Homo sapiens: one gene and its partners. The protein of the gene in region 6 interacts with the protein of the main gene of each other region in a pairwise test. Each region holds a gene or a part of one and is shown on either strand. Other genes may lie near its edges.

Region 1 (3,500 bases), on a different chromosome or scaffold from region 6:
TTCACTGCATGCATGTGCAGATTAGTACTCAGCCACAGCCTTGAGAGAATCCCTTTGTAGATGTTTGTAAGTTTCTGTGAAGTTCCCTCCTCTGTGTTACTCTGCTTAGCAAATTGTAGCTGCCTTGGTATGACAGAGTTTTTCTTCCTGTATACTTTGCTCTGTAAAGCCAAACTTCACTTCTAGCAATCTTTTAAAATGCAAACTGATTTTTAAATTTTTGGTATAATTTTACATCAAGAAAACCAAATGAGATTTATTTAATATATGACTATTTATTAATAATGTATTATTTATCCATATACTCTCCCTCTATACAGAGTGGGAAATTGTTTTTCTATGGTAACTGTGGTCAGACCTTTGTAAAATATATTCCATACTTTTTATTTCTAAGTCTTTGCTTATTTTGTAGATCCATATATTCTCCTTTTCTGCCAGCCTTATAAATTAGGCTGTTGCTTTAGAGCAGGAGCTGGCACTTTTCTGTAAAGGTTTGAAGAGTAAATATTTTAGGCCTTGCAGGTGTATGGTCTTTGTTGCTGCTACTTAACTCTGCTCTTGTAGTGAAAAAGAAGCTACAGACAACATATAAATGAATGGTCATAAATGTGCTCCAATAAAACTTTACTTACAAAGTAGGCAGTGGGTCAGATTTGACCTGTTGGTTGTAGTTTGCCTACTCTAGCTTAGGGAATTTTTCAATTTAAAATATTTGCATGAACAAATGCCCAAATAATGTGGAGTGAACCATATGGGGAAAAAGCATTCTAGGACAAGGGAAGAAATTATAAGGACCCTGAAGTAGGAATGATCTTCATTATGTTCAAGGAACTGCCAAAAGACAAGGGTGGATGAATCAAAGTAAATGAGGGAAAGTGTGGTAGGAGATGAAGTAGAGAGGTAGGTAAATCATGTGGCTCTTTTTTCCTCTATAAGGACTCTGGATTTTATCTCAGATGTGATGGTAAACATAAGAGTATGCTGAGCAGGGAAATGGCTTGATCTCATTCATGATATGTGTAGAATAGGGTGCAGATGGGCAAGAGAGGAAACAGAAGAGTAAAAAGCTATTGCAGTAGTTCCAGGCCAGTGATATTTCTGGAAGTAGTCAGAAGTGTTTGGGCACAAGATATATTTTGAAGGTGGAGCTGACAGAACTTTTCGTTATATGAACGTGGCATGAGAAGGAAAGAGAGGACAAAAAGCTGACTCATGGGAATCTTCAGAGCCAGTGCAGGCTGAACTAGCTAGAGATGTGTCAGAGGCTTAGCAAAGAGAGCAGAGTGGGATTCCAAAACGTTGCTAAAAAGTCTTTATGGTACCTCCAAAGAAAACCCAGTCCTCACATCAGAAAGATTAACAACCCAAAGTGAATGGGGATATGTAAGGGGATAGGGATTTAGCCTATATGGAAAAATTCAAGATTCTTAATTCTTCAAAGCCTCTTGTTGGAAAGAGAAGTCCCTGGGATAATGGAAAAGACTCAGGCTTTTCTGAGAAGATAGAGTTAGACTAGAGTTCATGACTAGCCTGGCCAACATGGTGAAATCCTGTCTCTACTAAAATTACAAAAAATATCAGCTGAGCGTGGTGGTGCATGCCTGTAATCCTAGCTACTCAGGAGGCTGAAGCAGGAGAATTGCTTGAACCCAGGAGGCGGAGGTTGCAGTGAGCCGAGGTTGTGCCACTGCACTCCAGCCTGGGGGACAGAGCAAGAATCTATCTCAAAAAAAACAAAACAAAACAAACAAACAAACAAAAAAAAAACAGAGAGAGAGAAACTAGATTGATTCTGCTTCCAAGGATAAATAAATCCAATAACAACAAATGCATGCATACATGTATCTGTGTCCATGGTGTGCACACACATAGCTATTAGGTCTCCTTTATCAAATTTCATGTCAAGGTCCAATGATCTCACATCTGGAATTTGTGTCATCCTCTTGCTGGTCAGCTTTCAACCTCTCTTCATTTAGTTTAGATATTCTTTTTTATACTGCTGCCCTTTGAATTGTCTAAACCAATGCTTGTAAAATTATCTGTGATGAAGGGCCAATCAAAAAAATCTCAATCTGTCATGGACTGATACTTTTGTAGAATACAATATAAATTACTTGAAAAAGTAAAATTAAAAAAAGCAAAGATTACAAAGTACAAGCCCAATTTTGTAATTATTAGATTCAACTGACATAAAATTACTGTCAATTTGCTATGAAAGTTTTTAAAAGTTTACTGTTAATTTCTATACTATCTTTGTCCGAGACTGTTAACCACATGGTATGTGGACCACATTATGAGTAGCAATGACATAAACCACTCTAGATCTCAAAAATCTCATTATCTGTTAAACCAAAATAAACCTCTCACTATTGTCCTCTAAACTCTGTACCAGTTAGTTCAGTCTTGCCTGTGTCTAACAGGCAAGCTCTTGTGTTCTCTTCCACACAGGGGACTGTTTTTAATCCATTTCTTTCTTTCCGTTTATTCAAAACATCCTAAATACATCTCATGTATATACAACTGAATACTTACCTTCCTCAGAAAGCTTTCCTAGAACATCCTTACCTAATTTTTACCCCTTTGGCATTTGTATTTTCTTATATTTATTAGTATAGGTTTATATTATTTGTATTGTTTCCTTTAGTAGAGCATAAATTACTTCTGAGTAAACCCTGATTTTTACCCTAAATATAAAAATGTCTAGAATATAGTAACATGGATACCCAAACAATAAAAAGCATGTAAGTGGCCAGGTGCGGTGGCTCATGCCTGTAATCTCAGCACTTTGAGAGGCCTAGGCAGGTGGGTTGCTTGGGGCCAGGAGTTCAAGGCCAGTCTGGCCAACATGGCGAAACCCTGTCTCTACTAAAAAATTACAAAGATTAGCCAGGTGTGGTGGCACACACCTGTAATCCCAGCTATTTGGGGGGCTGAGGCACGAGAATTGCTTGAACCCAGGAAGCGGAGGTTGCAGTGAGCCGAGATCGCACCACTGCACTCCAGCCCTGGGCAACCTTGTCTGCCTCAAAAAAAAAAAAAAAAAAAAAAAAAAAAAAAGCATATAAGTAATTGCTTGCCTGTCTAAGAGTCTATGTGTATGGGGAGATAAAGTACTATTGAATATGAAATACTATCTTTTACTGTGGGAATTTGTGTTTACCCCCCTTTCTCCCATGCTCTGCTTTCTTTTATTTTCTTACTAGGCCTGTCTCCACTAACTCTGGACCCTAAAACAGCTCACCCAAATCTGGTGCTCTCCAAAAGCCAAACCAGCGTCTGGCATGGTGACATTAAGAAGATAATGCCTGATGATCCTGAGAGGTTTGACTCAAGTGTGGCTGTACTGGGCTCAAGAGGCTTCACCTCTGGAAAGTGGTACTGGGAAGTAGAAGTAGCAAAGAAGACAAAATGGACAGTTGGAGTTGTCAGAGAATCCATCATTCGGAAGGGCAGCTGTCCTCTAACTCCTGAGCAAGGATTCTGGCTTTTAAGACTAAGGA
Region 2 (3,500 bases), on a different chromosome or scaffold from region 6:
GGGTTCACACCATTCTCCTGCCTCAGCCTCCCAAGTAGCTGGGACTACAGGCGCCCACCACCACGCCCGGCTAATTTTTTGTATTTTTTTAGTAGAGTCGGGGTTTCACCATGTTAGCCAGGATGGTCTCGATCTCCTGACCTCGTGATCCGCCCGCCTCGGCCTCCCAAAGTGCTGGGATTACAGGCGTGACCACCGCGCCCGGCCTGTTTGATGGGTTTTGTGAACAACGTCATAATCCAAATATAAAACATTTCCGTTGCCCCCAAAAGTTCTCTCGTGCTCCTCTGTGGTAAGCCCTTCCTCACACCCAGCCCAGGCAATAGTGATCGCTTTCTATTACTGTAGGTTTGGCGTCCCTTTTTAAGAATTTCACATTGGCTGGGCGTGGGGGCTCACGCCTGTAATCCCAGCACTTTGGGAGGCTGAGGCGGGTGGATCATCTGAGGTTGGGAGTTCGAGACCAGCCTGACCACCATGGAGAAACCCTGTCTCTACTAAAAATACAAAAAGTTAGCCAGGCATGGTGGCGCATGCCTGTAATTCCAGCTACTCGGGAGGCTGAGGTAGGAGAATCCCTTGAACGTGGGAGGCGGAGGTTGCGGTGAGCCGAGATCGCACCATTGCACTCTAGCCTGGGCAAAAAGAGCGAAACTCCATCTCAAAAAATAAAATAATTTCACATCAATGGAATCATATGGAATGAATACTTTTGTGTCTGATTTATTTTGCCAGATGACAATGTTTTAGAGATTCAAGTGGTTTTGTGTATCCGTAGTTGATTCCCTTTTTCTTTTTTCTTTTTTGTTTTTTTGAGACAGAGTCTTGCTCTGTTGCCCAGGCGGGAGTGCAGTGGCACGATCTTGGCTCACCGCATCCTCCGCCTGCCAGGTTCAAGCAATTCTCCTGCCTCAGCCTTCTGAGTAGCTGGGACTACAGGCGCCTGCCACCATGCCCTGCTAATTTTTTGTATTTTTAGTAGAGACAGGGTTTCACCATGCTGGCCAGGCTGGTCTCGAACTCCTGACCTCGTATCCGCCCGCCTTGGCCTCCCAAAGTGCTGGGATTACCAGTGTGAGCCACTGTGCCCGGCTGCCGCCGCCGCCGCCGCCGCCTTTTTTTTTGAGATGGAGTCTTGCCAAGTGCAGTGGTGTCATCTCGGCTCATTGCAGCCTTGGCCTCCCGGGTTCAAGCGATTCTTCTGCCTCAGCCTCCCAAGTAGCTGGGACTGTAGGCATGTACCACCACACCCAGCTAATTTTTGTATTTTTAGTAGAGACGGGGTTTCTCCATGTTGGCCAGACTACCTGAAGTGATCTGCCTGCCTCAGCCTCCCAAAGTGCTGGGATTATAGGCATGAGCCACCGCTCCTGGCCAGTTTATAGTTTTCTTATTTTTTATTTTATTTTTATTTACTTATTTTTGAGATGGAGTCTTGCTCTGTTGCTCAGGCTGGAGTGCAGTGGCACAATCTTGGCTCACTGCAACCTCCACCTCCTGGGTTTAAGCAGTTCTCCCTGCCTCAACCTCCCGGGTTTAAGCAGTTCTCCCTGCCTCAACCTCCCGGGTTTAAGCATTTCTCCCTGCCTCAACCTCCCGGGTTTAAGCAGTTCTCCCTGCCTCAACCTCCCGAGTAGCTGGGACTACAGGCACATGCCAGCATGCCCAGCTAACTTTTTTTTTTTTTTTTTTTGGGACAGTCTCACTCTATCGCCAGGCTAGAGTGCAGTGATCTAGGCTCACTGCAACCTCTGCCTCCTGGGTTCAAGCGATTCTCCTGCCTCAGCCTCCCGAGTAGCTGGGACTACAGGCGCCCGCCACCACGTCCAGCTGATTTTTGTAATTTTAGTAGAGACGGGTTTCACCATGTTGGCCAGGATGGTCTTGAGCTCCTGACCTCATGGTCCACCCGCCTCAGCCTCCCAAAGTGCTGGGATTACAGGCGTGAGCCACCGCGCCCGGCTTATTTTTTTGTATTTTTAGTAGAGACGGGTTTTTGCCATTTTGGCCAGGCTGGTCTTGAACTCCTGACCTCAGGTGATCCGCCCCCCTCAACTCCCAAAGTGCTGGAATTACAGGTGTGAGCCACCGCGCCCGGCCCAACTTTCATTTCTTTTGCGTATGTACCCAGAAGTAGGATATGCCTTCTTTTTTATGTTGTGTGGCTGACAGAGTTACGTTCTGTTCTGTAACGATGTTCACATGTCAGTCTTTCTATCTACAGAACCAGGCAGTGTGTGTAAAGTAGGTTTCCTCATCTGTGGGTCCAGTGTCCCAATTCCTGCCTCCTACAAATGATGTTCTTGGCTGGCTTCAAGTTCAAAGGCTTTCCTCCTGTTTCATGCATCATCAGTCTCCTTCATCACGTGAATTTTTTGAACTTTGTCATCCTATGTGTTGTGTCGTTCTGTTTTCTTTATTTCTTTTTATTTATTCATTTATTTTTGAGACGAAGTCTTGCTCTGTCGCCCAGGCTGGAGTGCAGTGGCACCATCTTGGCTCACTGCAACCTCTGCCTCCTGGATTCAAGTGATTCTCGTGCCTCAGCTTCCTGAGTAGCTGAGACTACAGGTGCATGCCGCCACGACCGGCTTTTGTATTTTTAGTAGAAATGGGGTTTTACCCTGTTGGTCAGGCTGGTCTCGAACTCTTGACCTCAGGTGATCCACCCGCCTTGGCCTCCCAAAGTGCTGGGATTACAGGCATGAGCCACTGCGCCCGGTCTCTTTTTTTTTTTGAGACAGAGTCTTGCTCTGTTGCCCAGGCTGGAGAGCAGTGGTGTGATTAGAGATCACTGCAGCCTCAAACTCCTGGGTTCAAGCAATCCTCCTGCTTTGGCCTCCCATATGTTGGGATTATAGGCGTGAGCCACCATGCCCAGCCCTTCCCTGTTTTCTTTTTCCTTGGCCACCTTCCCCTGCTCATCTCTCTGCTCTGACAGCTCCTACCATCTTTCCTTCCAACTTCTAGGAATGTGCTGGCTGACTGTGAGCTCTCTTTCTTGGAAATGCCTTTCCAGCTCCTGTCCCAGGCTCACAGGCATCTCAGTGGCTTACTGTGTCACCTGCGCCCTAGGTTGGTTGTCTAGACCCCACACCTCTGTTGTCCTAAGGCTGGGGACCCTCACGGTCCCAGTGCTGCCTCCTTCCACACTCCCAGGCCCTGTGCCACTGGCACGTCTGTCCGCAGGTCCCCTTCCCACAGCCCCACCTAGACCGAAAGGTCTGTGTCTCTGTGAGGAAGTGAATACCGAGTCAGAGCAAATCCTGGGTTACAGCGCCGACCCCTCTGAAGCTCACTTTTGTGATTTTGGTTTCCTCACCATTGTACTTGACAGACCTTAGTTGCCACATCTACTCCGTGGGGGTTATGGCCCATTAGAGCTATGAGGCTGAATGAGGCAGTTCATAGGGAAGGCTGCTTGTGGCCCTGGCTTCTAGAAAGGTGTGATTTGCAGGGGCTGCTAGGAGCCCTCCCTGCCCTCTCTTCCCTTTCTTTTG
Region 3 (3,500 bases), on a different chromosome or scaffold from region 6:
TGTGGAGGTGCATGGATGTAGAAGATCACTTTGATCTGTTATTTCTTTTTTCTTGAAGAGTTGTTTTGCCAGAAAAGCCAGTCAGTTTGAATAAATATGAAACCAGCCACTTGACCTCAGTGCTAATACTTCGTAGCCTCCAAAGCAAAGTGTCTGCTCCCTGGCCCCTGGCACCATTGATTCACCATGAGTCAATGACCCTTAAATAGAATTTCAGCAGGCTGGAGTTGGCTGCAACGAACTGGTCAATGTCACCCCTTCCTCTGGGTCCTGAAAAAGCTGTATCCACTGAAGCAAATGACTGCTATACAGGTTTGAGGGAGAAGGGGGAAGCAAAAAACAAATAAACAAAAGCAACCAAAAAAACTGTACTACTGAATTATAGGTTTTTCTATGCATTGACATCATACTGACTTCAACAAATTTGAGAGCTTGAAGTTTACTCAAACTTCCAGATCCCTGAGGTCACTGCTCAGTGGATTAAAAGAAATAAGTGAGAAGAAAGTCTCCTGATTCATTGTGTGTTTGCATGTGTGTGGGAGTGTGCACAAATGTGGACATTTAGACACATGCTTTAGGTTCAAACAGCTTTTTGGCAATGTGCCAGTTCTCACCCCTCCCACACCCACCTCATTTATCTCGTCTCTCATGGCGCAGTACTCCACACTACGGGACAGGGTCCGTCCATACTCCTCAGCTTTGGCACGCCACTTCATGCTGTCCTCCTCAAGGAGCTCCAGCTGCTGCTGTAGGTTCTTTGCAGAAACATTAGAGCAGTGCTAAAAGAGACAAATGGTGGTAACAGAGAGAAAGGACGAAACAGCAATAAGACGAGTAGGCTATTTACCTGAATTATGAAACTCATAAATGACACTTTTTAAAAAAAGAAATAGGTTCCTGATTTATTTTACCTTAAACATATTTGAACATAATTATTTCAGAAAGAAGCCAGTCACCCAACATTATGGAAAAGACATTTCCCAGCTCAAATCTCTAGTGTTGAAGATTCGCTCATCACACCCAACTCCTCAGAGACGCCATTCATTATAGGGTATAATTTTTACTTCAAAAGGCATAAAATATGCATTAGAAACATTTGATTTCTGCACTATAATTTTCCTGTCAACTTGAGCCTAACCTCAGGTTCATTATGCAAGTGCTCCAATCTCAGCTCAGCACAGTGGGGCTGCCAGGGCCAAGGCCAGAAGAGGATTGGAGAACAATTTACATTATTTGCACAAAGTGAGACTTCTTGCTTTCTTTTTCTTTTAAAAATAAATGTACTAATAAAATAAACTCTTTAAAAAGAAAGCTCTTTCCTGGCAAAAAACCAATTCCATTAACAACAACAGATAATTTGTATTTCTATATCTTTCAGTTTAAAAAATACATATTTTAGATTCACTGCATTTCATATAGTTTAGTGGATATCTTACATGTATTTTAAAATAAAATGGGCCATTATGATTTTATTAATGTTATACCTATTGTTAGAGTAAACATAATCTTTTCTCCCCTCAAGTTAGAAATCTGGAAAAGGATTTTTTTGTTTTGTTTTGTTGTTGTTGTTGTTTCTGTTTTTTTGTTTTGTTTTGTTTTTTTGAGATGGAGTCTTATTTACTCTGTCGCCCAGGCTGGAGTGCAATGGCTGGATCTCAACTCACTGCAACCTCCGCCTCCTGGGTTCAAGCGATTCTTCTGCCTCAGCCTCCCAAGTAATTGGGATTACAGGCACGTAATACCACGCCTGGCTAATTGTTGTATTTTTAGTAGAGACGGAGTTTTGCCATGTTGGCCAGGCTGGACTTGAACTTCTCGGCCTCCTAAAGTGCTGGGATTACAGGCATTAGCCAATGTGCCCAGGCTAAAGAAGGAATTTTTTTAAAGAATCAATGTCCAGTGTATTATTGATGAAAATTTGATCTGGGAATATTTCCTTCTCTTTTAGGCCTCTCTTTTGAAGTCCGACAGTGGCATCAAACAAATCCAACCAGCCCTGGCTAGAATCAGGAGGCTTGGACTCCTCCATTCTGGGCTTTTATGGGTAAGGTGGGAATTTCTGTTTGCCTCAAATTCTTCATCCATAAAATGATAGCTCTGGCCTGGATGAACTCTAAGATCTAGATGGTCTTCCAGATCTGCAATGCTAAAACAGCACTGGCCAACAAAATGTGAACCACACAAACAATTTAAAATTGTCTAGTAGTCATATCAAAAAATCAAATAAAAAGATAGAGCAAAATTAATTTTTATAATACAATAACCAACTATGTCCAAATATCACCATTTTAACATGTAAGTAATATAAAAAATACTAATGTGATTGCTTTTCATAATACCTCTTTGAAATCTGGTGTGTATTTCATACTTTGAGCTTCCTCATTTGTTGCTAAATTTCGATCAGAAATATTAGATCTGTATTTTAATTTTTTAAATTTACAGTTTCGAAAGTTGATTCCCATACCCAAATTGCTCCCAACATACTTAAAAGTTGTCCCATAACTATACTGAAGATCAATTTTTAAATTTATATTTAAATTAATGCAAGTTAAATAAAATTAAAACTTTAGTTTTTTAGTTGCATTAGGCACACATCAAAGGCAAAAAAGTGACTGCCACACTGGACTATACAGATCTACTATATAAATACTCTTTAAAAATTTTTTTTCATGAAAATAGAGGTATTCAACAAGACTTTTACATTCAGATTTTCTACTTAAAATTTTTTCTTTTGTCAGAGGGTAGAAATGAATCACAAATAACTACCCCAATGGTTTAGTTTATTTTTAAATTTAACATATACTAAGCAATCTGCCTGGTTTCTTTCATATGCTAGCCCAAGCCCCAGCTAGAACTGAGTCTAAATGATAGTGTTATTAGATGCTTACAGGCCGCTGCACTGATGAGATGATGTCGACTCCTAAGGAAAGGGCCAGTCTGTGGAGATGGTCTACACGGGCTTGCTTTTCCTGAGAGCACCGGAGGTGAATCTGCACATCATGGGCATCACCCAGTTCCTTCGGCTGCTCTACAAACTCCAGCTCTCTTGATTTGATGAGACGTCCCAGCTACAATTTAGGGCATTAACAATTAACCTGGGTTTTATATGAAGACAAATTTTTTTTTAAGCCTAATTTCTATAGCACATTTTGCTAGCTGGTCGAAATGCTGCCAAGCCCATCTTTAAACTGTTGGCATTAGCCAAATAAATGTTAGAATGCTGCAAATCCAATGGTGGTAAAATTGAACTGCTAACGTTGTCAGTTCCATTAAAGAAGGAAACAGTCTTTTTGGTCATGACCCAAAACCTTAGCAAGATCTAGGTCTGTGCTCTGAGTAAATTTAGAGGCTATTTTAAAGGGATATTAACGAATATTCCTCCATCTTATGTTAATAGAGACCATAACTATGAAGTTTTTGTAAAAATGCCACCAACAAATAGCACTCCATGATGTCAGGTACTTGAAGTGCAAAAAAAAAAAAAAAAAAAATCTAACTTG
Region 4 (3,500 bases), on a different chromosome or scaffold from region 6:
TTAGCCCAGCAGATTCATTTCGCTTGCCCGCGCTGCTCCTGCGGAAGAGCTGCAGTTTATTTTTGGGGGGTGAACAACCTTCTCTGTCGATCAGGCAACGAGTTTTATACTTAATTTGCCAGGGGTTCGCTGCAGAAGCGGCAGAGACCGTAGAAGACTGCGGCATAAATAAATTGGGAAAAAGCGAGGTGGGGGTTTTAGTCAGAAAAGGATGGAGAAGCCTGTCCCAAGGTCACATCCAGGGACTTGGGCCGTCTTCCTGCCGAAAGTCCTGGAGGCTTGTGGGGCTGGATTCTCCTCCGCTGGGGGTCCGAATGCGGGGTTCAGCGCACACCCCCCCCGCCCGTGGCTGGTTCAGACCCACTGCCCCGTCTTGCGAGAGCACCGCTGACACTGTGCTTCTCTCCGCCGCTCCCGCAGGTTACAGCACGGTCACCTTCGACGGGACGCCCAGCTACGGTCACACGCCCTCGCACCATGCGGCGCAGTTCCCCAACCACTCATTCAAGCATGAGGATCCCATGGGCCAGCAGGGCTCGCTGGGTAAGCGAGCGGAACCAAGTGGAGTCCTTCTCCCCTTCTTCCGTGCTATCCTCCTCTCCCCCAGGAATTCCTAACCCACAGCAAATTAGGCAAAGGAGGACATCTAAAAGGACCTTAGAAATCATTACCCCAATGGCACTGTATTTAAAGGACAAGACTGGGTCTCCCTCCATCCCAAGTACGTTAGGGACATCGCCATCCAACTAAGTCTATGAATGTCCGGAGGGCCTTTTTGGTGCACAGCGCAGCGACTGCTAGGGGAATGCAAAGTGAGAGGCTTAGCTTCTTGCATTCTGGACGGCCTCGCTCTGCACGCCGCTCATCCAGGCCCCAGTGCCCCAGGCTCAGGATCTCGTGTCTCCCCCAACCCCTGCCCGCAGCCTCGCACCCCGAGCCCTTGGGGCGCACTCGCTCAGCTGTCTTCGGTTCTCTCTGCAGGTGAGCAGCAGTACTCGGTGCCGCCCCCGGTCTATGGCTGCCACACCCCCACCGACAGCTGCACCGGCAGCCAGGCTTTGCTGCTGAGGACGCCCTACAGCAGGTAGGAAGGCGCTGGGCTCTGCGTCTGGGTCCTTGGGACCCCGGAGGGGACGCATGAGCCGGCGGACTTGGGAACGCCCCAGCCGGGCAGCCCTGACTGCGGGCATGCAGGGTCTTGGAGGCACGAGACGCCTCGACTCCACTCTACTACTTAGAGGAAATTAAAGCTGATCTCCCTGGTCTCTGAGTTGTTCTTATGTTGTATAAAAATGAGGACAATTACTCTTTCGAGCTGAAGAAGGAGCGGCGCTCGAGAAGTTATTATTTTTAGAAGGTCTTTACTGGGAGGAATTTACCTTCATCGGGACTAAATATTAAACACGGAGTCCACTCCCACTCGGTTCTGAGACCTCAAACCCATCCAATGGCCACACCGGCCAGACTACCTCGAAGGCGCGTACCTTCGGCCACAGCCTTGGCCACAGCCTTCTCCCCACCTCAACCCTCCAGGGTTTCGACCCGTGGCAGCGCTTTGTGGACGTCGTTCCCAGCGCCCCTGCTACGCTCTGGGGTGGGCCCCCGGCCGGGGTGCAGGACGGAGATCGGGTCGCAACAGGGCCCTGCGGGGAGGCTGCTCTGGCCCGCGTGGGACCTTCTTCCTGTGAGCGGGAGGCCCAAGGCCAGCTTCATTCCCTTCCAAGCTTTTCCCCGCTCCGTGCTTCCTCTTCTCGCCTCTCGCTCCACCTTCTCTCCCCCAAATTTTTTCTTCAACTTTGGGTGAACTTGGCCGGCCGCCCGCGTCTGCGATAGGGTTGCCTAGTAACTGCGGCGCACACCAGCCCGCACGGGGCTGGAAGTTGGGGCGGGGGCCGGGGAGCAGCAGCGCGAGGCCTGTGCGGCCCGGGATTGGGCGCGCATGACCTCATAGCCCCCTCCTCCCTGGTGCTCGGGGATCCTGACACCGGCTGCCCCCAAACCCATCCCCATCCTCCCTCCCCTCCGCGCGGGGACCCGGGGCTGACGTCAAGGGAAGGAGGTAGTGAGGTCATGAAGGAAGGAAAAGCGCCTGCCCTGGGAGATTGGGTGGGGGAGTGGCCGCGCCTGGGGGACTGTCCAGTCCCGCAGGTGGAGGAGGGGCGGGAGTCCTCGATCCGGAGCGAGGCGCAGCCCCAGGCCCTTGCTGCCTTTACGAGAGTGAGCCCGGGGCTGGCCTGGCTCTCGCATCTAAGGTTCTCCTTCCCGGGAGTTTCTAGAGAGGTGCAGGGATGCGCCCCTTCTATTTCTAACGCCTGAGGCGCGCGGACTGGAGAAACCTTTTTTTTTCCTTTTTTTCCCCCGGAACATCCGGTTTATCTATTCGAAACTTGGATTCCTCATCACACTTTTTTTGGGCGGGTGGAGGCAGGCGGTGGGCAAGAACACCAATGGTCGCACCTCCCCATCCTTCTTTTTCTGCGTCCCTAGCTAGAAATCATTCCTGTTCTGCACCACAGGCGCGGCATGCTGCCCCAAGCCTGCCACCTCAGCGCCTCCCTTCGGTGGGTAAAGTCTTTGGAATGGGGGCAGGATTCGCACCTATTCTCTGAGGTGAATCTCCTTCCCTAGCAAAACTGGCAGCGGGGCCATTGCCATTCTTCTTGTGTAGCTGCTCCTGCCCATTGCCAGGGTGTCATTGCTGTTATTCTAGTAGCCATCAGGCGGGCTGTTGGAATGGTTCCCACGTAATGACCTTGGTCCACCCCTTCCTCCTTAGCTCCCTGTGGACTCAGTTGGTGTGTCACACTAGGCTGAGAGAAGACCTTGATGCGGGAGTGGGCACTGTCGATATGGGAGGTGTTCTTGGGGGTTGGGGACTGGAAGACCTTGCAGTCTGGTGCCTCAGTGACTCGAAGCTACACACACATCCGTTACTTCCCTCTCCCAAGCCGAGACTCACCCTGTGGGACCCTAGGAAGGGGTCCATCAGAGGACCTGGCAGCCTTGAAAGAGGAGTCCAGGAAAAAGCGATCATTACCACTGGTTTAATAGCAATTCTCCAGGGTGCCTATGGTGGATTTTGACTTAGGTCTGATTTTGTGGTTGCTAGGGAAGTAGGAAACATCACATAAATTTTCACGTTTTCTAATCCAGCTTCTGATTGGCCACTGTATTAAGCACTTCATCAAATTCACCTTTCAGAAGTATTTGTTTATTTCTATCTTCTTTCTTTATAATTGAGGAACTTTCTTTGGTCCTGTTATTTTTACACAAATCCAATAAAAATACTATTTTTCCCTCTCACAGAAAATTTCCCAAGTAGTAACATCTCAAAAAAGAATTTGTGACCCCTGTAGGAAGAGTTTGTTCCCTTGGAATTTGTGCTGTCTGGATCTTGAAAGCTCCATTCACTCTAAATTAACATTTCCATTCAGTTTTCAAAGATCATGTGCTTCCCTTGCAGTCTAAAGATGAATGGGCAGGTGTAGGAATGTTTTAAA
Region 5 (3,500 bases), on a different chromosome or scaffold from region 6:
GTGGGTGGCTGAATGGGTGGGAGGGTGGGCGGATGGATGGATGGATGAGTGAGTGGATGGGTGGATAGATGATGGATGGATGGATGGGTGGGTGGAAGGATGGATAGGTGGATGGGTGAGTGGGTGGATGGATGGATGGGTTGATGAGTGGATGGATGGATGGGTGGGTGGGTGGATGGCTGGGTGGGTAGATGCTAGGTGGGTCAATGGATGAGTGGATGGATGGGTGGATAGAATGTTGGGTGGATGGTGGAAGGAGGGGCGGGTGGATGGGTGGATGGATGGATGGATGGATGGATGATGAGTGGGTGGATGGGGGATGGATGGATGTGTAGATGGATGGATGGATGAGTGAGTGGATGGATGAATGGGTAGGTGGATGGGTGGATGGATGGGTATGTGGTTGGATGGGCGGGTGGATGGGTGTGTGGATTGATGGGTAGGTGAGTAGATGGTTGGATGGATGAGTGGGTGGGTGGATAGATGGGTGGGTGGGTGGATGGGTGAGTGGATGGGTGAATGGTTGGCTGGATGGGTGAGTGGATAGATGGGTAGGTGGGTGGATGGATAGATGGATGAGTGGATAGGTAGATGGGCAGGCAGGTGGGTGGGTGGATGGGTGCAGGTCGGTGTGTGGATGGGTGTGTGGATGGATGGGTGGGTGGAGGGATGAGTGGGTGGGTAGATGGATGGGCAGATAGATGGTTGTGTGGGTGGGTGGGTGGATAGATGAATGAGTGGGTAGGTGAAAGGATGGACAGATGGATGGGTAGGTGGATAGATGGGTGGGTGGGTGGATAGCTGGACAGATGGGTAGGTGGGTGGATGGATGAGTGGGTGGGTGGATGGTGGATGGATGTGTGGATAGATGGATGGATGGGTGGGTGGATGGGTGGGTGGATGGGCGGGTGGATGGATGGGTGGATAGATGGATGAGTGGATGGGTGGATGGTTGGGTGGGTGGATGCTAGGTGGGTGGATGGATGAGTGGATTGATGGATGGATAGATGGTTGGGTGGATGCTGGAAGGACGGGTGGATAGATGGATGGGTGGGTGGATGGGTGGGTGGATGGATGAGTAGATGGAAGGGTGGATAGATGGTTGGGTGCAGGGTGGATGTATGGGTGAATAGATGGGTGGGTGGGTGGATGGATGAGTGAATGGATGGGTGGATACATGGTTAGGTAGATGGTAGATGGATGGGTGGATAGATGGATGGGTGGGTGGGCGGGTGGGTGGATGGATGAGTGGATGGATGGGTGGATACATGGTTAGGTAGATGGTGGATGGATGGGTGGGTGGGTGGATGGATGAGTGGATGGATGGGTGGATAGATGGTTGGGTGGAGGGTGGATGGATGAGTGGATAGATGGGTGGGTGGGTGGGTGGGTGGATGGATGAGTGAATGGATGGGTGGATACAAGGTTAGGTAGATGGTGGATGGATGGGTGGATAGATGGCTGGATGGGTGGGTGGGTGGATGGATGAGTGAATGGATGGGTGGATACATGGTTAGGTAGATGGTGGATGGATGGGTGGATAGATGGATGAGTTGGTGGGTGGATGGTTGGGAGGGTGGATGCTAGGTGGGTGGATAGATGAGTGGATTGAAGGATGGATAGATGTTTGGGTGGATGGTAGAAGCATGGGTGGATAGATGGAGGGGTGGGTGGGTAGGTGGGTGGATGGATGAGTGGATGGACGGGTGGATAGATGGTTGGGTGGAGGGTGGATGGATGGGTGGATAGATGGATGAGTGGATGGGTGGATGGTTGGGTGGGTGGATGGATGAGTGGATTGATGGATGGGTAGATGGTTGGGTGGATGGTGGAAGGATGGGTGGATAGATGGATGGGTGGGTGGGTGGGTGGGTGGATGGATGAGTGGATGGACGGGTGGATAGATGGCTGGGTGGAGGGTGGATGGACGGGTGGATAGATGGTTGGGTGGAGGGTGGATGGGCGGGTGGATAGATGGATGGGTGGGTGGTTGGGTGGGTGGGTAGATGGATGAGTGTATGGACGGGTGGATAGATGGTTGGGTGGAGGGTGGAAGGATGGGTGGATAGATGGATGGGTGGGTGGGTGGGTGGATGGATGAGTGGATGGACGGGTGGATAGATAGTTGGGTGGAGGGTGGATGGGCGGGTGGATAGATGGATGGGTGGGTGGTTGGGTGGGTGGGTGGATGGATGAATGGATGGACGGGTGGAAAGATGGTTGGTGGAGGGTGGATGGACGGGTGGGTAGATGGTTGGGTGGAGGGTGGATGGATAGATGGTGGGTGAGTGGGCAGGTGGATGGGAGAATGGAGTCAGGCAGGTGTGTCAGGTGTGCGGGCAAACTGTTGGGTGCCTGTGAAGGATACTGCCGATTTGCCACAGTCCCCATTCACCTCTCACCTCCTGACACCTAGGCCAGCTGCCTCTGTGGCCATGTGTGCCCAGGGCCTCTGTCATCCTGACCCACTTCACTCATTCAGTTCTCCCAGCCCCAGTGGGCACTGCAGTGGCGGCCCCTCCTCCGTGTCCCTTGGATTTGATCACTCCAAAGACTCTGCATTCTAAGAACTCCAAGGATAAGAGGGGGAGGGAGGACAGGGCAGGAGAGTCGCTGAGACCCTGGAAAGCAGGTCCTTGTGCGGCTGCTTGGCTCCAGTACTCACCCCGAGACTTGGCCCGGCCCTGCATGGAGTAGGCAGGGGTGCAGCTGCGGCCAAAGCGTGTGACTTTGGGGTCCAAGAAGTAGATGGGGCCCGGGCTGGTGTCCTGAGGTGGTGCTGGGGAGAGGAGCCCAGAGTGCTGAGAGTGATTCTGAAGACAGTGCCTGCCCCACCGCCCGGCCTCAGTGCCCCTCTTGGCCCCGAGACACTCCCACCAGGTCAGAGGCCACCCCAGTCCCATCTCGGAGGGGTCACCCCAGGGGCCCTGAGTTGTGGCTGCCTGAACTGGGTGCCTCAGGTCTCTGCTCTGACTCTGTCTCCTCACAGTCAAAGTGATTCTGCTCTGCTGCTGTTTGTAGCCACCTCTGCCCCTCTAACCTCTGCGCAGGTGTGGGCTGGAGAACCAGCTCGTGGGTTTGTTGGAACTGGACATAATTAGGCTGGGTGTGGTGGTGCACACCTGTAATCCCAGCACTTTCAGAGGCCGAGGCAGGAGGGTCACTTGAGCTCAGGACTTTGAGACCAGCATGGGCAACACAGCAAGATCCCGTCTCTACTAAAAATTTAAAACTTAGCCAGACATGTTGACATGCACCTGGGGTCCCAGCTCCTCGGAATGCTGAAGGGGGAGGATCACTTGAGCCTGGGAGGTTGAGGCTGCAGTGAGCTGTGATCGCGCCACTGCACTCCAGCCTGGGCGACGGAGCAAGATGGAGTCTCAAAAGAAAAAAAAAACTGCACATAAAGAGTGACAAGAGCGACTAGGCTCTGAACCAGGGCTTCGGCTTGCTGGCAGGTCGCATGCTTAAGAGGGGGGCTCGGCGTTGGACCACGTTCA
Region 6 (4,239 bases):
GAAGTTAAGCTCTTAGCATTTCCTTGGCACCCTGAGGCCCGTCTCAGCCCCTCCAGGCCCTTCTGGGATCCTCAGCAAGCTGGGGGTGGAGCTGTAGCCTGGGCCTTGTGCCAGTAGAGGGCAGGGCTGGGGCCAGGCAAATGCTGGGGGCCAGTCCCACTCAGGACTGTTCTAGAAGCAAGGGCATGTAGGTGGGGAAAGCAGGGTTGAGAGAGGGCTCCAAAAGTCACTCACAGACTCCTCACTGCTGGGAGTTTTTGCTGCCATCTTACGGGGGACCTTTTCCAGGATGGGCGTCTTGGTGAGTCCTGGTGCAGGGATGCAGAGGTGTGGACCTGGGGACCAAGAAGTGGGAAGCATCAACACAGCAGCCACATAGGCCTGTCACAAACCCTCCACCTCCCGCCAACAGACCCCCACCCCAGCCCCATGAGGAGGCCAGAGCCTGACAGCTGTGTATAGGGGTCTCATTGCAGGCGTGGCCCCAGTCTCTACTTCCACCTGTACGTGCTGACCACAGTGTTCTCTCTGGGCCCCCATATGGGAGAGAGTGGTTCCTAAAGTGAGGGTCTGCTCTCATGAGTCTGTTGTCACCCAAGGCCAGCTGACCACCCTGGGGCAATCCAAATCCACCAGGGGTTGCTGGCAGAGTGCTGCCTTTGTTCCTGCCTGGAACCCAATAGATAAGTGCTTTGCCAATCAAACTCTCTCTTTCCCACTAGCTTCTCAAGGGTAAGACCATACCTACTGTGCTCAGTGCTTCATCTCTGCATTCCGGCCACATCTCTGGTGTGGAGTAGGGTGAATTCCCTCACTCCGTTGGTGGAGGGAAAGGAATGCATGCGTGGGTGAATGGAGGCCTTTAAGGCCCTGTGCTCCAGGATGCATCTGGGCTAATTGGGAGCCTGGCCTGTGGCCAGGGCAGGGAGACTCTGGGCCTGCTGGAGGCGTTGTGACCTAGGCAGTCTCGGGTCTGCAGGCTGCCAGTGTAGATGCCATAGGAGTGCCCAGGGAGGTATGCAGGGAGGCTGGGCAGCCAGGGCCCCTAGGGGCCACCTGCCTTAGTCTGGGGAGAGGCAGATTAATTTTGAAGGTACAGTAGAAGTGAGCCAGGCCAAGAGGGCAAAGACTGTTATTATTAGGCTGTGGGTCACAATTGCTACCCTCTGAGATCCCCCTGAACCTAAGCCTCCACAGGCACATACTCATGTTTTCCACCAGCCCACCCTCTATTCTCTCAAGTCTAAAGCTGAGGTTTAGCTAATTTCCTCACCCCTCTCCCCACCCAACACCACCCCTACCCAGAGGCAAGCACCGCCCATGTATGGGCACCTGGCAGGGTTGTTGCCAGGAACAGAGAGTCCAGAAAGATGGATGAACCAGGCCCAAGGATGGAGGAGCCTGGGGCTGCCTTGCAGTGCTGGGCAGAGAATGTAAAGCCCTTGCTGGCACAGTGCAGGGACACTCTCCACAGGCTTGTTCCCACGCCTCCCAGTGCTGTGGGTTCGTAGGGGCTGCCCCCAACTGCAAAGTGAAAGAGGTGGCGTCCTGGTGAGGATTCACCGGAGCATGGCAGTCTTTTGAGAGGACAGCAAGGACAAGGTCAGGTTGGTAAAGGCCCTACAGACCATGCAGCCAATGCCTCCTTTTGCTCTGGCCCAGAGCCCCCCCCTCCCCCCCATTCGGGAGACACTAGTCAGGCTTCAGGGACCCTGAGCTTGAAGAAGGCAGAGCTGGGTGGGATGGTTTCCTGGTGGTCCCACCTACCAACTCTTCTTCCTCCATCACTCCTGGGCAGATGCCTAGAGGATGTATGTGTATATATGTCTGTTTGTGTTTTGTGCCTCCCACCCATGCTCCTGCCAGCCTGGCTTTCCAAGGGCTGCCTGCTCTGCCCCGAAGGTCCAACCCCAGTCTGGCCGGTCATTCACAGGCTGTCATCGGCTATGTCCTGGCTCAGACTTGCCACCAGCCACTGCTCCTCCTTCCCCACCCCCTGCTCCCGGGAGAAGCGGTTGCCAACCAGCAATTCAGGCGAGTCGGGTCAGACCCAAGGACCCTCCGACTAGACACAGAAAGCGCGGACCTGGTCACTTAGCAGATGCTGGGCCAAGTGAAGTGAGAACATGCGCTTGGAGTCCCGAAGCCCTGATGGTTAAGCCTCCCCAAGCCCAGGCACCGAAGCAACGCAATCCTGCAGCTTCCTAGCTGACCCCCGACGGCCGCTGCTGCGCAGGACTCAGAGGACTCCACGAGTCCTGGGGCCTCTCGGCCCCGGTGCTGTCCCTGGATAGAGCCCCCGACCGCCGCCCTTGCTCCCGGCACCGCGCTCCGCCAGCCCAGCCCAGCCCTTCTTCTCACCTGCTCTCCTCGGCTCTGCTGCCTCGGCCGACGCTGCACCGCACCACTCAGGAGTGTGGGCGGGGGTGTGAGCCGGAAGGGGTGGGGGGCGTGTCGCAGCGCGGGGGTGGGGGCTGCAGCCTGGGTTCCCGGCAGGGCCTCCGACGTCGCCCGGGTCCCCGCGGCCACCCGACTGGAGAAAGCAAGCTGGCCGCACTTCTCTCCTTCCTCTTGTACCTCCTCCCTCCTCTCTCTTCCATTTCCCCCCTCCCCCAAGCCCCCTCTTCTTCGCTGTCCTCAGCCCCATCCCTTCCCCAGCTCCCCGCCCAGGGATCTCAGCTCCCGGCCCCCAGAATCTACCCGGAGCGCTTCCCGGAGGAACTCGGGCAACAAATTTAGGCTCTAGAAGGGGGCACAGAACACTGTCCCGCCCATGCCTCCTGCCCCTAGCTCAGCATTTCCCAGTCACCGCACTTCCCCAACCCCATTATTCCAGCCTTGGGGTGCTGCTGCTGAATCCTGGAGAGGGTTGGGTCTGAGGAAGTCTCTGCTCGCTGCCCTCCTCTCCCCACCATCCAGGCCAGTCTCAAACCCTGCTACACCATCTTTCAAAATAATAATAAGAAACAATAACTGGGATCAATATTCACTGCAGGACTTCCCTTTCTGTTACCATCCCATTCCTGCTGGCACTATGGGGTGGGGAGCAGAGGTGGGGTGCTACAGACTTGGGACAATCCTGATGGCAGACCTGAGGATGCTTAAGGACTGCGGCAAGAGGCAGGCTCTCCTCTCAGACAAAAGCATCCCCCACCCCAGATAGAGACCCCCACACAGAAATAGCACAGACAGACCGACAAAGGCAGACTCCGCCCAGGCACACACAGCCCGACTCGCAGATCGAGGACAGACATGCGCACAACAGCAGAGCAGACCCTCACAGGCGCAGCTAACACACAGGCGACCCTGACCAGCCGCCTCTTCACGCTATGATGGGAAGACTCTGCCTCGATCATCAGACTACGGTCTTCGGGACATGGAGTGTTGCGCGAACGCTGGCTTGAGGCTCTCAGGGCTGGGACTAAGGATGGGAAACTTTCCTGACAGTCCTGGGCCGCTGCTCCCACTCAGGACAGGGTGGCAGTGGGGGTTGGCACCAGATCCCACACTCGCATCTCTCCCTTCAAGACTCAGACCCTCGGGACTGACAGGGATACAGCAAACACCAACCACGGCTCCCCCACTCCTCCTAGGACAAGTTCTCTAATGAACACACACATCACATCATACACACATTTCCAGAGGTCGGACTCTAAAAGATGGGCCGTTTTTCTTCCTCTGCCGGAATGCTCGGCTCCTACTCCTTTCTCAAAGCCTCAACGGGGCGGGATTCTGGTCTGAAGGGAAGCTCAGCCCAGGCACCTCAGAGCTCTGAGGCTGGTGTGGGGCGTGTCCTCAAAGGGCGGGGCCTGGCGTGCCTAGCTGGAGCGGGTCCTCAGGCTCCCCCGGGCGGCATCCCCGGGCTCTGCGCTAGGCCTGGAAAAGAGGGTCTATCCTGGGCTGAGGGGAGCATGGTGCTCCTTGGTGACCGTGGGTGACAGCCTTTGTTGGGTTTGCTTCCTTCCTATCCCCTTTTCCAGGTAGAAAAACAGCTACAGGTGCCTACGTGTTAGTTTGGCTTAGGTCTGGATTGGGACTTGGAGACCCAGTTCACCCTCCCCTCTGCTCTGGCCCTGCGCGCCTCCACGCACCCCCCACCAGTAAAGAGACTCGGCCTCCTGGGACAGACACAGTTTATTGATTTGGGCGGAGGCGCCGCGGTGCAGCGGCCCAAGTTTGGCACTGGGAGCAATGGAAGGAAGGACAGACAGATGCAGGCTCTACACAGGGGAGCCGCAG
Region 7 (3,486 bases), on a different chromosome or scaffold from region 6:
GAATCACTTGAGGTCAGAAGTTCAAGACCAGCCTGGCAACGTGGCAAAACCCTGTTATCTACCAAAAATACAAAAATCAGCCGGCATCGTGGCACAGGACTGTAATCCCAGCTACTCGGGAGGTTGAGGCAGGAGGATCGCTTGAGCCCAGGAGTCTGAGGCTGCGGTGAGCTGAGATCATGCCACTGCACACTCCAGCCAGGACAACAGAGCAAGACTCCATCTCAAAAAAAAAAAAAAAAGAAGGGGGGTGGTCCTGAGACCAAAACATTTAATAACTGCTGGTTTATTAGGTAAATCAGCAGTTCTCAATTTTAGTAATCATAAAGAGTTATTATAGGCCGGGCACGGTGGCTCACACCTGTAATCCCAGCACTTTGGGAGGCCGAGGCAGGTGGATCACAAGGTCAGGAGATCGAGACCATCTTGGCTAACACGGTGAAACCCTGTCTCTACTAAAAATACAAAAACAAAATTAGCCGGGTGTGGTGGCGAACGCCTGTAGTCCCAGCTACTTGGGAGGCTGAGGCAGGAGAATGGCGTGAACCCGGAAGGTGGAGCTTGCAGTGAGCTGAGATCATGCCACTGCACTCCAGCCTGGGCGACAGTGAGATTCTGTCTCAAAAAAAAAAAAAAAAAGTTATTATAACTCTGTAATAATCTAACATATCTAACATATATGTGTAGCTCTCTTCAATCTTTTAGCTTATAAAATTACTGCATTTAGGCTGGGCACAGTGGCTCACACCTGTAATCCCAGCACTTTGGGAGGCCGAGGCAGGTGGATCACTTGAGGTCAGGAGTTCGAGACCAGCCTGGCCAACATGGCAAAACCCTGTCTCTACTAAAAACACAAAAAATAGCCAGGTATGGTGGCGGGCGCCTGTAGTCCCAGCTATTCAGGAGGCTGAGGCAGGAGAATTGCTTGCACCCAGAAGGTGGAGGTTGCAGTGAGCCGAGATTGCACCACTGCCCTCCAGCCTGGGCGACAGAGCAAGACTCTGTCTCAAAAAAAAAAAATAAATAAATAAAAATAAATTACTGTATTTATACATAAAAGTGTTTGAATATCAGAAATCACTTTTCAACCTAATAATATTATCCATTTACTATATATCTTCAAATCTAAGACTTCTCTGGAAGCTGCAGCATTACTTTATATATTAATACAAATGGGAAAAACACTCAGTTAAAATCATAGGACACTGTTGACTGTAAAATGCATCCCATTTTTGGAAATGTTCAAATGGGGGGAAAAGGTGCATCCTAGGTCAATGGAACACGGTAGATCTTGCAGTGCCTCCTAAGTAACCCTCTGTATATTCTTTCATTCATTCAACCAATATTTATCAGTTAGCTGCTCCAAGCACTTCACAAGAATGGTCTCCTTTAATCTTGACAACCATACTATGGGAGGAGGTGTTATGATGATGCCCATTTTACAGCTGAGCTAGCTGAGGCCCAGAGAGGTTGCTGGGGTCACACAGCAAGAATGGGGGCAGAACTGGGATTCTGCAACCAGGCAGTCTGGCTCCAGACCTGTTCCGGGTCACGCTATAAACGCAGTGACTAGGCCAGTTGCGGTGGCTCACGCCTGTAATCCCAGCACTTTGGGAGGCTGAGGTGGGGGGGGTGGGGGTGCGGATCGCTTGAGGTCGGGAGTTCGAGACCAGCCTGACCAACAGGGAGAAACCCCGTCTCCACTAAAAATACAAAATTAGCCGGGCATGGTGGCACATGCCTGCAATCCCAGCTACTAGGGAGGCTGAGGCAGGAGAATTGCTTGAACCCAGGAGGCAGAGGTTGTGGTGAGCCAAGATCGTGCCACTGCCTCCAGCCTGGGCAACAGAGCAAGACTCCATCTCAAAAAATAATAATCATAAAATAAAATAAAAGCAGTGACTAAGACAGACAGAAATGCCTGCCCTCGTGGTGCCAACAGTCTAGCAGGAACACAACAGTGAACAGAACACGCCAGGAAAACATAGGCATGCTGGAAGGTTGTTTCTTTCTTTGTATCTACTTATCCCTTCTCAACCACTGTCTCCCATCCTCTCTGCCCCATTCTCCACCTGGACCTTTCCCCACTGCCTCCTCCGAGGCCTGGGGTCTCATGGCACTGCGTGGGTGGGGGAATGCTGCTATATACAGCACTGGCTAGAGCCACCAAATGTGAGTTAACTGGATACCGCCTAGTCTCCTGCCACTGTAAGCTTTTTTTTTTTTTTTTTTTTAAGAGAGTCTCACTGTATCGCCCAGGCTGGAGTGCAGTGGTGCAATCTCAGCTCACTGCAACTTCTGCCTCCCAGGTTCAAGCGATTCTCCTGCCTCAGCCTCCCGAGCAGCTGGGATTACGGGCACGCACCACAACACTCAGCTAGTTTTTGTATTTTTAGTAAAGACAGGGTTTCACCATGTTGGTCAGGCTAGTCTCGAACTCCTGACCTCAGGTGATCCTCCTGCCTCGGCCTCCCAAAGTGTTGGGATTATAGCCATGAGCCACCATGTCTGGCCCTACCACTGTAAGCTTCTGCAGGTCACAAGGTCCGGAGAAACGAGTCTGGCCAGGGTGGCTTAGGGAATCAGAGAGTGGAGGCAACCAACTCAACCCTAAGTCTGAGTTCCAGTCGAGAAATCCTCTGCTCTTTCCTTTTCATGTCTCTCCAAGGAACTCTTTCATCATGTCTCTTTGAATCTCTGTTGGCTATTTTTGCCGTTGTGTTACCCGTCTCAGTACTAGTACCCATATTCCCCTCTCCCATCTCCCTCCCCACCCCCGCATTGTTTTCCCTTCTGTCTCCACCCTAACCTCTTTTGCTCTTCCTGCCCACCCTCGACCCCTCCCGAGTCCTCTCCCATCTTTCTTTCCCCTCCATCTCGGCCCCTGTCTCTCTCTCCATCCTTCCATCTCTTTCTCCCTTCCTGGGCACTCTCTCTCACTATCCGACTCTACCCCACTCCCCTCCCAACCCCAACTCCCACCTTTCTTCCTCCTTCAGCCCATCTTCTTGTCTTTTTTTTTTTTTTTTTTTGAGATAGAGTCTCACTCTGTCACCCAGGCTGGAGTGCAGTGGCTCCATCTCGGCTCACTGCAACCTCCGCCTCCTGGGTTCAAGCAATTCTCCTGTCTCAGCCTCCCAAGTAACTGGGATTATAGGCATGCACCACCATGCCCAGCTAAGTTTTGTATTTTTAGTAGAGATGGGGTTTCACCATGTTGGCCAGCCTGGTCTTGAACTCCTGACCTCAAGTGATCCACCCTCTTCGGCCTCCCAAAGTGCTGGGATTACAGTCATGAGCTACCATGACGAGCCACCATCTTCCTATCAATCTATCTATCCATCCATCCATGCATCTATCTATCTATCTATCTATCTATCTATCTATCTATCTATCTCCCTCCCTTCAACAAATCCATTCCCCCTCACCCCAAGTCTTACAGTGAAATTGCAGCCACAGTTACTCCCTTCCCCCATGCAGGCTCTC

The links.
Region 1: the proteins of CHAT (region 6) and TRIM69 interact in binary tests that used the Homo sapiens proteins (3 or more experiments, as listed by UniProt).
Region 2: the proteins of CHAT (region 6) and PPP1R16A interact in binary tests that used the Homo sapiens proteins (3 or more experiments, as listed by UniProt).
Region 3: the proteins of CHAT (region 6) and CCDC141 interact in binary tests that used the Homo sapiens proteins (3 or more experiments, as listed by UniProt).
Region 4: the proteins of CHAT (region 6) and WT1 interact in binary tests that used the Homo sapiens proteins (3 or more experiments, as listed by UniProt).
Region 5: the proteins of CHAT (region 6) and CIMAP1D interact in binary tests that used the Homo sapiens proteins (3 or more experiments, as listed by UniProt).
Region 7: the proteins of CHAT (region 6) and FOXA3 interact in binary tests that used the Homo sapiens proteins (3 or more experiments, as listed by UniProt).

The regions. Positions count from the first base shown.
Region 1 is NC_000015.10:44,764,028-44,767,527, forward strand, and holds part of TRIM69 (E3 ubiquitin-protein ligase TRIM69), read left to right. Parts: intron 1-3,203; coding exon 3,204-3,500.
Region 2 is NC_000008.11:144,480,982-144,484,481, forward strand, and holds part of PPP1R16A (protein phosphatase 1 regulatory subunit 16A), read left to right. Parts: intron 1-3,500. UniProt on the Homo sapiens protein: Inhibits protein phosphatase 1 activity toward phosphorylase, myosin light chain and myosin substrates.
Region 3 is NC_000002.12:178,865,138-178,868,637, forward strand, and holds part of CCDC141 (coiled-coil domain-containing protein 141), read right to left. Parts: intron 3,069-3,500; coding exon 2,889-3,068; intron 780-2,888; coding exon 630-779; intron 1-629. UniProt on the Homo sapiens protein: Plays a critical role in cortical radial and GnRH neurons migration during brain development. Regulates cortical radial migration by negatively controlling the activity of histone deacetylase 6 (HDAC6) and promotes centrosome maturation.
Region 4 is NC_000011.10:32,425,540-32,429,039, reverse strand, and holds part of WT1 (Wilms tumor protein), read left to right. Parts: intron 1-420; coding exon 421-543; intron 544-981; coding exon 982-1,084; intron 1,085-3,500. UniProt on the Homo sapiens protein: Transcription factor that plays an important role in cellular development and cell survival. Recognizes and binds to the DNA sequence 5'-GCG(T/G)GGGCG-3'. Regulates the expression of numerous target genes, including EPO.
Region 5 is NC_000019.10:464,984-468,483, forward strand, and holds part of CIMAP1D (protein CIMAP1D), read right to left. Parts: intron 2,780-3,500; coding exon 2,666-2,779; intron 1-2,665.
Region 6 is NC_000010.11:49,612,598-49,616,836, reverse strand, and holds the start of CHAT (choline O-acetyltransferase), read right to left. Parts: upstream 2,801-4,239; 5' UTR 2,648-2,800; coding exon 2,362-2,647; intron 815-2,361; exon of another isoform or gene 785-814; coding exon of another isoform or gene 745-784; intron 336-744; coding exon 235-335; intron 1-234. UniProt on the Homo sapiens protein: Catalyzes the reversible synthesis of acetylcholine (ACh) from acetyl CoA and choline at cholinergic synapses.
Region 7 is NC_000019.10:45,867,326-45,870,811, reverse strand, and holds part of FOXA3 (hepatocyte nuclear factor 3-gamma), read right to left. Parts: intron 1-3,486. UniProt on the Homo sapiens protein: Transcription factor that is thought to act as a 'pioneer' factor opening the compacted chromatin for other proteins through interactions with nucleosomal core histones and thereby replacing linker histones at target enhancer and/or promoter sites.